3 linked regions of the Homo sapiens genome follow. The protein of the gene in region 1 interacts with the protein of each later gene in a pairwise test. Each region holds a gene or a part of one and is shown on either strand. Other genes may lie near its edges. The genes, in order: ZNF774, BLK and FAM124B.

Region 1 (3,750 bases):
TGATTCTCCCCAACTTCATTTTCCTCAGCAAGCAAGGAAATTGTGGCCTTAACTATACTCATATTAGTTATGGGAGCAGCTAACTTCTTGGCTTGCAGATTTGGTGTCAACCTCAAGGGACAGATTATACAGAACCCCAAAGGGAACTGTGTTGGATACCATTCTATTTCAAGATCTTAATGGAGTCAGAAATAAGACTGAAAAAGACATTTTTTTTTTAAAAAAAAGAAGACATGGATAGGTTGTAAAAATAAGTGAAAGTGGGAATAAGCACAAAACACAACTCTTAGGGGCTGAAACCAATCATTAATATATTAATAAATCGACAGCAATATCATGAAAAACATTACTTTTTGGAGGATAGTCAAGAGTGAATTACTGGATGGATCAGTCATTTATTCAACAATTAATATGTTGCCAGGCATAGGAGTCACATAGAAATTAAGATAATGTTTTTTCCCTTAAAAAGTTTCCAATAAACCAGCCTCAGCAACATATTGAGACCTCTTTCTCTACAAAGAACTTTTAAAAATCAGCCAGGCATGGTGGCATGCACTTGTGGTCCCAGCTACTCAGGAGGCTGAAGTGGGAGGATCACTTCAGCCCAGGAGTTCCAGGCTGCAGTGAGCTATGATGGCGCCACTGCACCCCAGCCTAGCAACAGAGTGAGCCCCTGTCTCTCCCTTAAAAAAAAAAAAAATGCAGCCAGCATGACCACCCACTACAAAGAATATTGCATTTCAAGGGAGGAAGGACCAGACTGTGGTGAAGAAGTTTTACTCTTTCACATCTTTTGTCCCACTACAAATCACCTATTTACTACTGGAACACACACACACACACACACACACACACACACACACACACACTTTTGGGGGAAATATTTTTGTATTTACAGACATTATTATTGGTCATTTATAAAGTATTGAGTTTTTAAGGATCTAAAAACCATCTCTCTGGTTTAAAACTTTAACAAACAACAATAATGTAATTAGAAAGTAAAAATTGTAATAAGAGTTTTCAGTATTGGCCAGGTGCTGTGGCTCATGACTGTAATCCCAGCACTTTGGGAAGACGAGACGGGCGGATCACCTGGGGTCAGGAGTTCGAGATCAGCCTGGCCAACATGGTGAAACCCTGTCTCTACTAAGAATACAAAATTAGCCGGGTGTGGTGGCACACGCCTGTAATCCCAACTACTTGGGAGGCTGAGGCAGGAGAATCGCCTGAACCCGGGAGGTGGAGACTGCAGTGAAAGGAGATAGCGCCATTGCATTCCAGCCTGGGCAACAAGAGCGAAATTCCGTCTAAAAAAAAAAAAGAGTTTTGAGTATAATTTTTATTTCTACATTCATTACAAAACACAGCTGCAGGGCCCACTTGCTGGAGACAGCGCCACTGAGGAGGGGAGACGTCTTAGCCACGGTTATAGAAACCCTGTTTCCCAGCCCGTCCCTTTCCCCATGCACAGGTGACCTCAAAGGCCCCACAGCGCTGAGGGGCTGTGACTAAGTGCCACTGTGAGAAGCTCCAGTGCGTTCACCGGGTTTATTAATAGGAACATGACTGCACGCGTGGGGCCGAACCCCGTTCTTCTTCTCGGTGCTCGCGCCCTAACCGGGGTGCGGCGGTCAGAGGGTCACAGATCAGCTGAAACCCTGGGACCACCATCGAGAAGCAAGAAAACTGATTAAGAGAATGACTTATCCCGCCGACGGTATAGAGACCACAGCTACCTCTCCCACAGCCCAGCAAGACCCGGGGGCTCCCAAAGGCCAGCGCGGGAACCCCGCTGAGAAAACGTCTGGGTGGCGGGCAAGCCCCCTCCACGCCCCTCAGCAGCGCGCCGCTGCCGCCGCGGTCTCCCTCCTTGAATCACTCACCGCCCCAGGGCCCAGCCGGGGATGGAGCAGGAAGTGAGTCCTCCACCGCCGAGCCGCACCCGGCCCGCAACCCCGAGGCTGTGCCTCCCAGAACCCGACCGGGATTCGTGACAGGGCTGTGGGGACACAGGTGGGACTCCGGCTTCGACAGCCAGCGGCCGGAAAGTACCGCCCCCATCCTCTTGCTATTGGCTTTTCAGTTTCCATGGCTAGAATTTTTCTCTGTCCATAGGCTGATAGAGCTGTCAATTATCGCCTAGCCTTCTGGGAAACGTAGTCCCGAGCAAGACCTCAAAGGACTCGGAGCCGTGGATGTCCAGTTCCAAGCGTTGGAAAGTGCTAAACCCAATTCCCCAGCTACCGGTCCCCCGGAACCGCCTGTTTGGAGCCGAGGGATCTAAATGCTGTATCCTCACTGTGGCATCTGCAGATGTGAATCTCCTGGCCTCACCCACCTACCGCGGAGCAGCCTGGTGCCCACCATGAGGTCTCCCGCGCTCTGGCACTTCGCCCCTCCCCAGCGCAGAGCAGCTCAGCCCTCGGGCCTTTGCGGCCTCTCTTCTGCCCAGTCTTCCACCTCATCCCCGGCGGCCGGAGCCTGCAGGGTGTTTGCGGAGGCCAGGTCCCAGACCAACTCAAACTGGACATTGGAAAGGCCCAGCAGAAGCCCTTAGTAGAAAACAGACATTCCGCATCCTTCCCTTGGCATCAAACTCCCAGGCACATCCCCTTTCCGTCTGGTTGATAGCCAGAGGAGGCGGGCGAGGGCATCAAGTATTCTGGGAAATGTGATATCGGGCTTCAAACTGGGGAGGCTCCTGGGTCTCATGTGAGAGCCAGTGATCACTTTGGGTCGGCCCCTAGCTAAAAAACAACAAAGTCTTTCCTTAAAGTGAAGAAAATGTGCCTGTCTACTCCGTTTGTTGATTCAGTGCAATTTAGAAAAATAAAAGAACATTTTGTGATGTATTATAAAACGCTTAGAATTACCAGCCATAGAGTTTTTTTTTTTTTTTTTTTTTAGACGGAGTCTCGCTCTGTCGCCCAGGCTAGAGTGCAGTGGCACGATCTCGGCTCACTGCGAGTTCTGCCTCCCAGGTTCACACCATTCTCCTGCCTTAGCCTCCCGAGTAGCTGGGACTACAGGCGCCCGCCACCACACCCGGCTAATTTTTTGTATTTTTAGTAGAGACGGGGTTTCACCATGTTAGCCAGGATGATCTCCATCTCCTGACCTCGTGATCCGCCCGCCTCGGCTTCCTAAAGTGCTGGGATTACAGGCGTGAGCCACCGTGCCCGGCCCGAGTTAATGTTGAAGATCCCTTTGATGCTAATTCCACCATTCCTTCAACAAAAATAAGGTGCATTTTCCAGTGGATATTTATTGGGAACATTCTGTTCTCAAGATCGTTCTGGGGGCAGGGCGTGGTGGCTCACGCCTGTAATCCCAGCACTTTGGGAGGCCGAGGCGGGAGGATCACGAGGTCAGGAGATCGAGACCATCCTGGCTAACATGGTGAAACCCCGTCTCTACTAAATATAGAAAAAATTAGCCGGGCGTGGTGGCGGGCGCCTGTAGTCCCAGCTACTCGGGAGGCTGAGGCAGGAGAATGATGTGAACCCGGGAGGTGGAGCTTGCAGTGAGCCGAGATCGCGCCACTGGACTCCATCCTGAGCGACAGAGCAAGACTCCGTCTCAAAAAAGAAAAAAAGAAAGAAAAAAAAAAAAGATCGTTCTGGGAACTGTGATTACTCGGGAATCATACATAACCATTACCTTCATGAAGTTCACAGGCCAAAAGGGGAAATAAACCATAAAAGGTATCAAAATCCTAAGTAATTTTTTTTTCCATATAGCCAGTGGCAT
Region 2 (3,750 bases), on another chromosome or scaffold:
ATCCATGAGAAATACTATGAAGAGAGGCAAATACAGAGCTATTCTGGAATCAGGTAGGGGTTGGGAGAGAGAATGATGGATGGTCAAAAATTCAAAAGGCCTGCTATATTCCAGAATGTTCAAAGAGAAGGTGTGATCACCAGGCCATGAACGCCAGTTTTCCCAAGAATGCTCAGGATTTGGCTACTCCTGCTCTGAGGAAGAATGAGTCTAATTTTTTTTAACTCTTTATTTTGCAGTAATTTTAGATTTGGAGAAAAATTACAAGGGATAGCACAGAGAATTTCCATATTTCCTTCACCAGGTTCTTCTAATGTGAACACCTTACGTAACCATGGTACATTTGCCAGAACTAAGCAGTAATTGTTACCACAATATTAGCGAGACCCCAGGTCTTGTTAAAATTTCACCTATTTTTCCACTAATGACCTTTGCGGTGTTGCTTTAGGATCCAATACAGGATGCGAATTCTGGGTTTGGGTGTCCTGACCATCATGTCTCCTCTGATCTGTGACGCTTTGCCTGTCTTTCTTTGTTTTTCATGACCTTGACATTTTTGAAGGTGAAATATGTTGTGGAATCTTCCCCAGTTTGGATTTGTCTGATGTTTTCTCATGATTTGACTGGGGTTATGAGTTGGTGGGAAGAACCGCACTGTCGTGGCAGTTCACAATAGCAGCCCAGCTTATTCCCGGTGATGCTAAGCTTGGTCCCTTGGTGAAGCTGGCATCTGCAGGTTTCTCCTCTACAGAGCTACTATTTCTCCCTTTCCATACTCTTAGTCCAAACCTCACTCAAGGTGAGGGGAATTAAGTCCCACTCTCCCGAGGGAGGAGGATATGCACATATCACAGCAATTTCTTCTGTTACTGCAAACGCACAATTCCTTAGTTCCTTGGTAATGTGGGTGGATGAGGGTGAACTTCATCCACCCGCATTACCAGATAAATGGAAACGTTGTCAAAACCTTACAATTTACACAAATCCTTTCAAAATATGTGATCAACTATGCTTTCCTTTTCACAGTTGGTGTTTCCTGGTGAAATAGATCTCTTAAACAAGAAGATCATCATTACATCTATTCAGTTACCCCATTCCTGAATGCCTGAAAAATGGAACAACTTCATTCAGAAACAAACAAATAAAACGAAAGCAACAGTCATTTGCCTTGAGCCAGATGCTCCCCGCCTGTGACCACTAACCTCTGTCAGCTCTGCACAGTCAATATCACCTCCTATCAAGAGGCCGAGTGACTCGCCGGGAGCGCAGCAGTGGCCTGTGTGTGCCCGCTCAACCCCCTCTCTACATCCCACGTCCCTTCTCTCCTCTGTGGCACATTCACTGCCTTTTCCAAAAAGCAGAATCTACCCTGGATGGATGACCTTTTATAAATTAAAAATTCTCAAAACTGGAAATGCACAAACCATGGAGCAATCTATTCATAGCTGAGGCAGCGATCCATTCATGCCTCTTCCTCCGTCTGTGGCACCCACAGCAATGTCCTTGCTTGCTTGCCCCACTACAGGCCTTACAGCACCATTTGCACAATTTAAAGGAAGACGATAAAGAACCCGGAAGACGCAGGGCCTCACCTTGGCAATGCTTCAGTGGTGTTTCACCATAGCTCTTCAGATCCTGACACCCTTACAGTGGAGCAGGCTCCTAGCGACAACGAGCAACTTCCAACACCATCCTAAAGCAAAAGCCAGTCCCAGATGAATTCTTCTCATCTCAATCAGTTTTCATGGCTTGTGGCTTTCTGCCGGCAGCAGACAGAGGTGGCAGCACCCCCGGTCTGCGATCAGAGCCTCCCCAGTCCCCAGTGAGCAAGTGCAACAGGGGCCCCGCCCTCCAGCCGAGCCCTTCTGAAGCTCCTGTGGGCTCCCTGGGTTTGGGGGTATCCCTCTGCTCCAGGAAAACTCGTGAGGAAGGACCATGAGCAGCTGCCCTGTCCCTGGCCCTGGGCAACGTGGGTCACAATGCCCTTCTGTCACCAGAAAGTTTTCTCCTGGGGTTTTGGTTTAACAGCACGGCTGGTATTTTTTCTGCACCAAGTCCGGCAGAGTTAGCAAACCTCCATGCTGACTCTACAAGGTAATTTGCCCTGCCGTGTGGACAAACGCTGCAGATCTCATGGAGAGGGCTTGGGCTCTGCCATGTGCCATCTGTGTGCACCAGGGCAGCCGTTCTTTCAGCCTCACTGGTTTTGCTTTGTCTTTAAATGATGCTAATAATAGCTAGCTCACAGGATACTATCAGCATTAAATGGTAGAATGGGTATGAATGGTGGGCATAGAATTGGTGTTTGGTAAAAGCTAATTTCCCATGTGTTTTACAGTACCCTAGCCAGTAGTTAGTTGACTTGGATCTCAGAGCCTCTTCAATGGTGGAAATTTGCTTGGCTATGAAAACTCAGAGGAGTAGAGAACAAGAATAATGGAGGTAACGGGAGAAGGATCCCAACATCTAGAGTGGTGAGTGGTGTCTGGAGTGGTGGGTGGCATCCTGTACACAGCAGTCAAAGGACCAATGGGACCAAGAAGGCTTCTGTGATGACGTCAGAGTCTTGCTGGTCCAGCCAGACACAGTGAGCCACTGGTCAGCTGGTTCCTTTCCACTAGTGTCTTGATATTGGCTTATAAGAGGAAGTCACTCGGTGGGCTCTCTCTTCTCCCTTCATAGTCTTGGATCCTTGAGAGTGGGTGTGGGAGGCAGACAGGGTAGCTTCTACCCCATGGTCCAGAATGTCAGCTTTCTCAAGGAGTTCATTTCCTTGGATTGGACTGAGACAATACTGAGCTATGAGTTGCAGGTTTGACAGGTGTTCATGTCAATAGACGCAGCAACGCAGAGTTCTGGGGTTTTAAGACACTATGGAAATAATCTGTTTCACTTCCCCAAGGGGTTTTGTGAGAATAAATGGATTCATGCATAAAAAGTATCTATTACAGTATTTAGCACATAATAAACTGCAAATACCTGGAAGCTGATGTGAATGTGGCTAATTGCTTTAAATCCCAAAGCTGATCTTCTCCACGTGGTAGCAGAGGGCTCACAACAATGTCCAGAACCCTGGGCCTGCTCAGTCCATGGCAGCTCCTGTTAATTTACTCTTACATTCACTTCCTGATACCTACTACATGGATCCAAACATGAAACATGAGTTCCAAACTCTGCGAGCTTCTGATTTAAAAAGTGACTGATTTGAGATGAGGTAACTTAGTCTTCCTATTTCAATTCAATTAATGCAGCACTGTTTTTCTGAACACCTGCTCTGTGCTAAGCACCTGCTGGAGGCTGGGGATACCAACGCAGCTACACTCCATCCTCCTCTGAGAGTCTCAGCCTAAGGAGCTTGGAGAAGGGGCCTGATAAGCAGATCACTGCAGTGGAGCGTAGTAGATGTAGCCACAGAGGCCTCAACGGGGCACAGTGCTAGACCAGAGGCGGAGGCAATAATTCTATCAGGGGTCACTGGGGGAAGCTGCCAAGGAGAAGGCTTTGAACATGATTCGTGACTAAGACTCCTACAGACTCTCAGAGACAGATCCCTAGGCTGAGTCTTTTACTGAACCAGGATGTTGTGACGCTGCCTGAACCGCCTCTAACATTTTTTCAATAGGGCCTAAATAGCTGACGTTTGGACAACTTTTATATACTTGGACTTGAGGGTATAGAGAATGTAGTGGAGAGCAGGAAACCCAGCATCCTACAAAGAAAATACATGGTCTGTCTACCCAAGGTTAGAGT
Region 3 (3,750 bases), on another chromosome or scaffold:
TAGCTAATTTGACTGAGGGCACAGTTTAAGTTGCAGGAGGTTTAAAAAAAGAGGCGGACATCATCACCCATGCTACCTTCCCCCAGAACACACTGACACTGTCACTACCACCAGAGGCAAAAGCACAGGGAGAAAAGCAGAGGGACTGTTTGAACGAATAAAGGGAAGGTTGAACCCACTATCATTTTGCACCCACTAAGAATTGAGACAGCAGAATTAAAACTGCCAAAGGAAAAACAATGTCTGGCCCAGAGCAAGAACTCAACAAAGTTCTGAGGAATGAATAAACATGGACTTGCCTTCTCATGTACTCATACATTCATTTACTGAACATCTATTTGATATGCTCATATCGCTGTCATCAAAACCACCCATTCTAGACTCTGAGAGGCATCAGACTGTCTGCAATGGCAAGAGGTCATGTGGAAAACGCATTGCTCACTGGGCGCGCTGGCAGAGACAGCTGACAGCCTCTCACATGCACAGATCACAATTGCACCGCAGTTACATGGTCTCCAGGAGCTTCTACTTTACCAAGCACCACCATGTACATTCTCTCATTTGACCCTCATAACACAAATAATCCATGTCAGTTCCATTCATAGGACTCATCAGTGACTGCTCATTTCACCAAGGATAGAATAGAAGCTACTTAGCCAGGGTTCATTTGTAGAAGGATGTTTTTGCCTACCATGTGCCAGACACTGACCTTAGGTTCTAGGTTCACAGGAGTGAGCCCAAAAAGTCCCCCCGCTCTTGGTACTTACATTCCAGTGGCTGACCACATTCCCACTGATCTAGCCTCAGGCCACCTGCCCATCCTCTTCCCCTGACTCCCCCTCCCTTCACTCCAGCCACATGAAACCTCAGGAAGTTTGCTGAGCATGGCCTGCTAAGCAGCACCACACCAACATCGTCACCCACGGTCACCTGTTTGAGACACCCTTGCTCCCTTCTCCAACTGGCTAATTCCTCCTGGGCCACCCAGCTCACGCAGATCTGGGCATTGCTACTCAGGAAAGCTTTCTCACTGCCCCTCCTCGGCCTAGCTCCCCTCACACTCAGGTCTTCTGCACACACGCCTCCATCCTGGCCATGTGGAGGGATGGTCTGCAGAGAGGTTAGTTTGTGGTTATGGTTCTTCCTTTAATAGGTATAATTTTCTTACTTTTGCTGAACATCAGCCATTTGGGACCACTCTGTATTTGTCTCCTCCGCCCTGATCTTCTCTGGAGACCCACAACCTTCCCTAAAAGTCCCACAGAACACCACACAGCATCTAGGGGTAGAAGCCAGAGCCTTTGCCTCGGGGCTAAACTGATCCATATAATCTCACTTTCCTGCACGTAATAATTGATTTAGAGAAGAGAATCTGATCCTAGTTGGTCTAACTGAAGTCCAGACATTTTGTTGCGCCATGGTGGGGCAAGGCACTTGGAATCCACATGAAGGATGTAACCCTCAGAGCTGCTAGCAGCCAGCTGGCGACCCTGGCGGATGCCTGGCTGAGGATAGGGCCAAGACAGTGATAACAGAGCTGGGATCTGGATCCTGAGCACACTGTGTAAGGCCTGGACTACTCACTTACAGAAGCCAGACTCGCTACCCAGCCCCTCTCCCCAGGACCCAAGGAAGTTTAGGCTGGATTTTCTTTTCTTTTCTTCTCTTCTCTCCTCTTTTCTTCTTTTCGAAACAGAGTGATATGGTTTGGCTGTGTCCTCACCCAAATTTCATATTGAATTATAACTGCCACAATTCCCATGTGTCGTGGGAGGAACCCAGTGGGAGGTGATTGAATTATGGGAGTGGGTCTTTCCTGTGCTGTTCTCGTGATAGAGAATGAGTCTCATGAGATCTGATGGTTTTAAAGATGAGAGTTCTCTGCACAAGCCCTCTCTTTGCCACCTACTGCTATCCATGTAAGATGTGACTTGCTCCTCTTTGCCTTCCGCCATGATTTTGAGGCCTCCCCAGCCACATGGAACTATGAGTTCATTAAACCTCTTCTTTTGTAAATTGCCCAGTCTCGGGTATGTCTTTATCAGCAGCGTGAAAACAAACTAATAGAGTAAATTGGTATCAGTAGAGTGGGGCATTGCTGAACAGATACCTGAAAATGTGGAAGCGACTTTGGAACTGGGTAACAGGCAGAGGTTGGAACAGTCTGGAGGGCTCAGAAGACAGGAAAATGTGGGAAAGTTTGGAACTTCCTAGAGATTTGTTGAATGACTTTGACAAAAATGCTGATAGTGATATGAACAATAAGGTCTAGGCTGAGGTGGTCTTAGATGGAGATGAGGAGCTTATTGGGAACTGGAACAAAGGTGACTCTCATTATGTTTTAGCAAAGAAACTGGCGGCATTTTGCCCCTGCCCTAGAGATTTGTGGAACTTTGAACTTGAGGGAGATGATTTAGGGTATCTGGCAGAAGAAATTTTTAAGCAGCAAAGCATTCAAGAGGTGACTGGGGTGCTATTTAAGGCATGAGTGAACAGTGAATTAATTCACTCATAGTAAATGAGTCTCCCAATATCTGATGGTTTTAAAAACAAGAGTTTTCTGCACAAGCTCTCTTTGTCTGCCGCCATCCATGTAAGATGCGACTGCTCCTCCTTGCCTTCTGCATGATTGTGAGGCTTCCCAAGCCACGTGGAACTGTGAGTCCAATTAAACCTCTTTCTTTTGTAAATTTCCCAGTCTCCAGCCTGTCTTTATCAGCAGTGTGAAACAGACTAATACACAGAGTCTTGCTCTGTCATCTAGGCTGGAGTTCACTGGCACAATCTCGGCTCACTGCATCCTCTGCCTCCCTGGTTCAAGCGATTCTCCTGCTTCAGCCTCCCGAGTAGCTGGGACTACGGGTGCACACCATCATGCCCAGCTAGTTTTTGTATTTTCAGTAGACAGGGGGATTTACCATGTTGGCCAGGCTGGTCTCAAGCTCCTGGCCTCAAGTGATCCACCTGCCTCAGCCTCCCAAAGTGCTAGTATTACAGGCCTGAGCCACCACGCCCAAGAATTTTCTATCCTGAAAAATTCACTCCATTCAAAGAATCAAAAGCTATCTAGGAGCTACAATGTGTTGTCTTTGGATTATGGCTGAGCCTTTACACACTTTCCTCAGGCACTTTTATTATATGACACCAGAAGCAGAATTTTCCAGAAGGCGATCTCTCACTCTGTTTGCAAAAGCTTAGACTCATTGACTTAACAAGAGGAGATCAAAGCGTGTTTTGGAGTGAGGAAGCAGAAGTCTCTGAGGTTTGGAGGTCAGGACAAAGGTGATGTCCAAGGGGGCTATCAAGAGTGAGAGGCAGCTGGGCGTGGTAGCTCATGCCTATAATCCCAGCACTTTGGGAGGCTGAGGCAGGTGGTCACTTGAGGCCAGATGTTTGAGACCAGCCTGGGCAACATAGTGAAACCCCATCTCCACTAAAAATACAAAAATTAGCTGGGCATGTTGGCAGGCACCTGTAGTCTCAGCCACTTGGGAAAGCTGAGGCACAAGAATTGCTTGAACCCGGGAGGCAGAGGTTGCAGTGAGCTGAGATCACACCATTGCACTCCAGCCTGAGCAACAGAGAGAGACTCTGTCTCAAAAACAAAAGAGTGAGGGGCTGATGCCCCATTCACACCTGAGAAGTGGCCAGGCTCCTGGGACAATCCAGAGAGGAAGAGGGCTCTTTTCATACAATTCATGGAGTTTCTCTTTATCCAAAAAACTCTTCTACACTCCCCAAATGTGACTC

What was found.
Region 2: the proteins of ZNF774 (region 1) and BLK interact in binary tests that used the Homo sapiens proteins (3 or more experiments, as listed by UniProt).
Region 3: the proteins of ZNF774 (region 1) and FAM124B interact in binary tests that used the Homo sapiens proteins (3 or more experiments, as listed by UniProt).

Annotation. Positions count from the first base shown.
Region 1 is NC_000015.10:90,350,545-90,354,294, reverse strand, and holds the start of ZNF774 (zinc finger protein 774), read right to left. Parts: upstream 2,012-3,750; 5' UTR 1,884-2,011; intron 1-1,883.
Region 2 is NC_000008.11:11,492,434-11,496,183, reverse strand, and holds the start of BLK (tyrosine-protein kinase Blk), read right to left. Parts: upstream 1,798-3,750; 5' UTR 1,593-1,797; intron 1-1,592. UniProt on the Homo sapiens protein: Non-receptor tyrosine kinase involved in B-lymphocyte development, differentiation and signaling. B-cell receptor (BCR) signaling requires a tight regulation of several protein tyrosine kinases and phosphatases, and associated coreceptors.
Region 3 is NC_000002.12:224,395,379-224,399,128, forward strand, and holds part of FAM124B (protein FAM124B), read right to left. Parts: intron 1-3,750.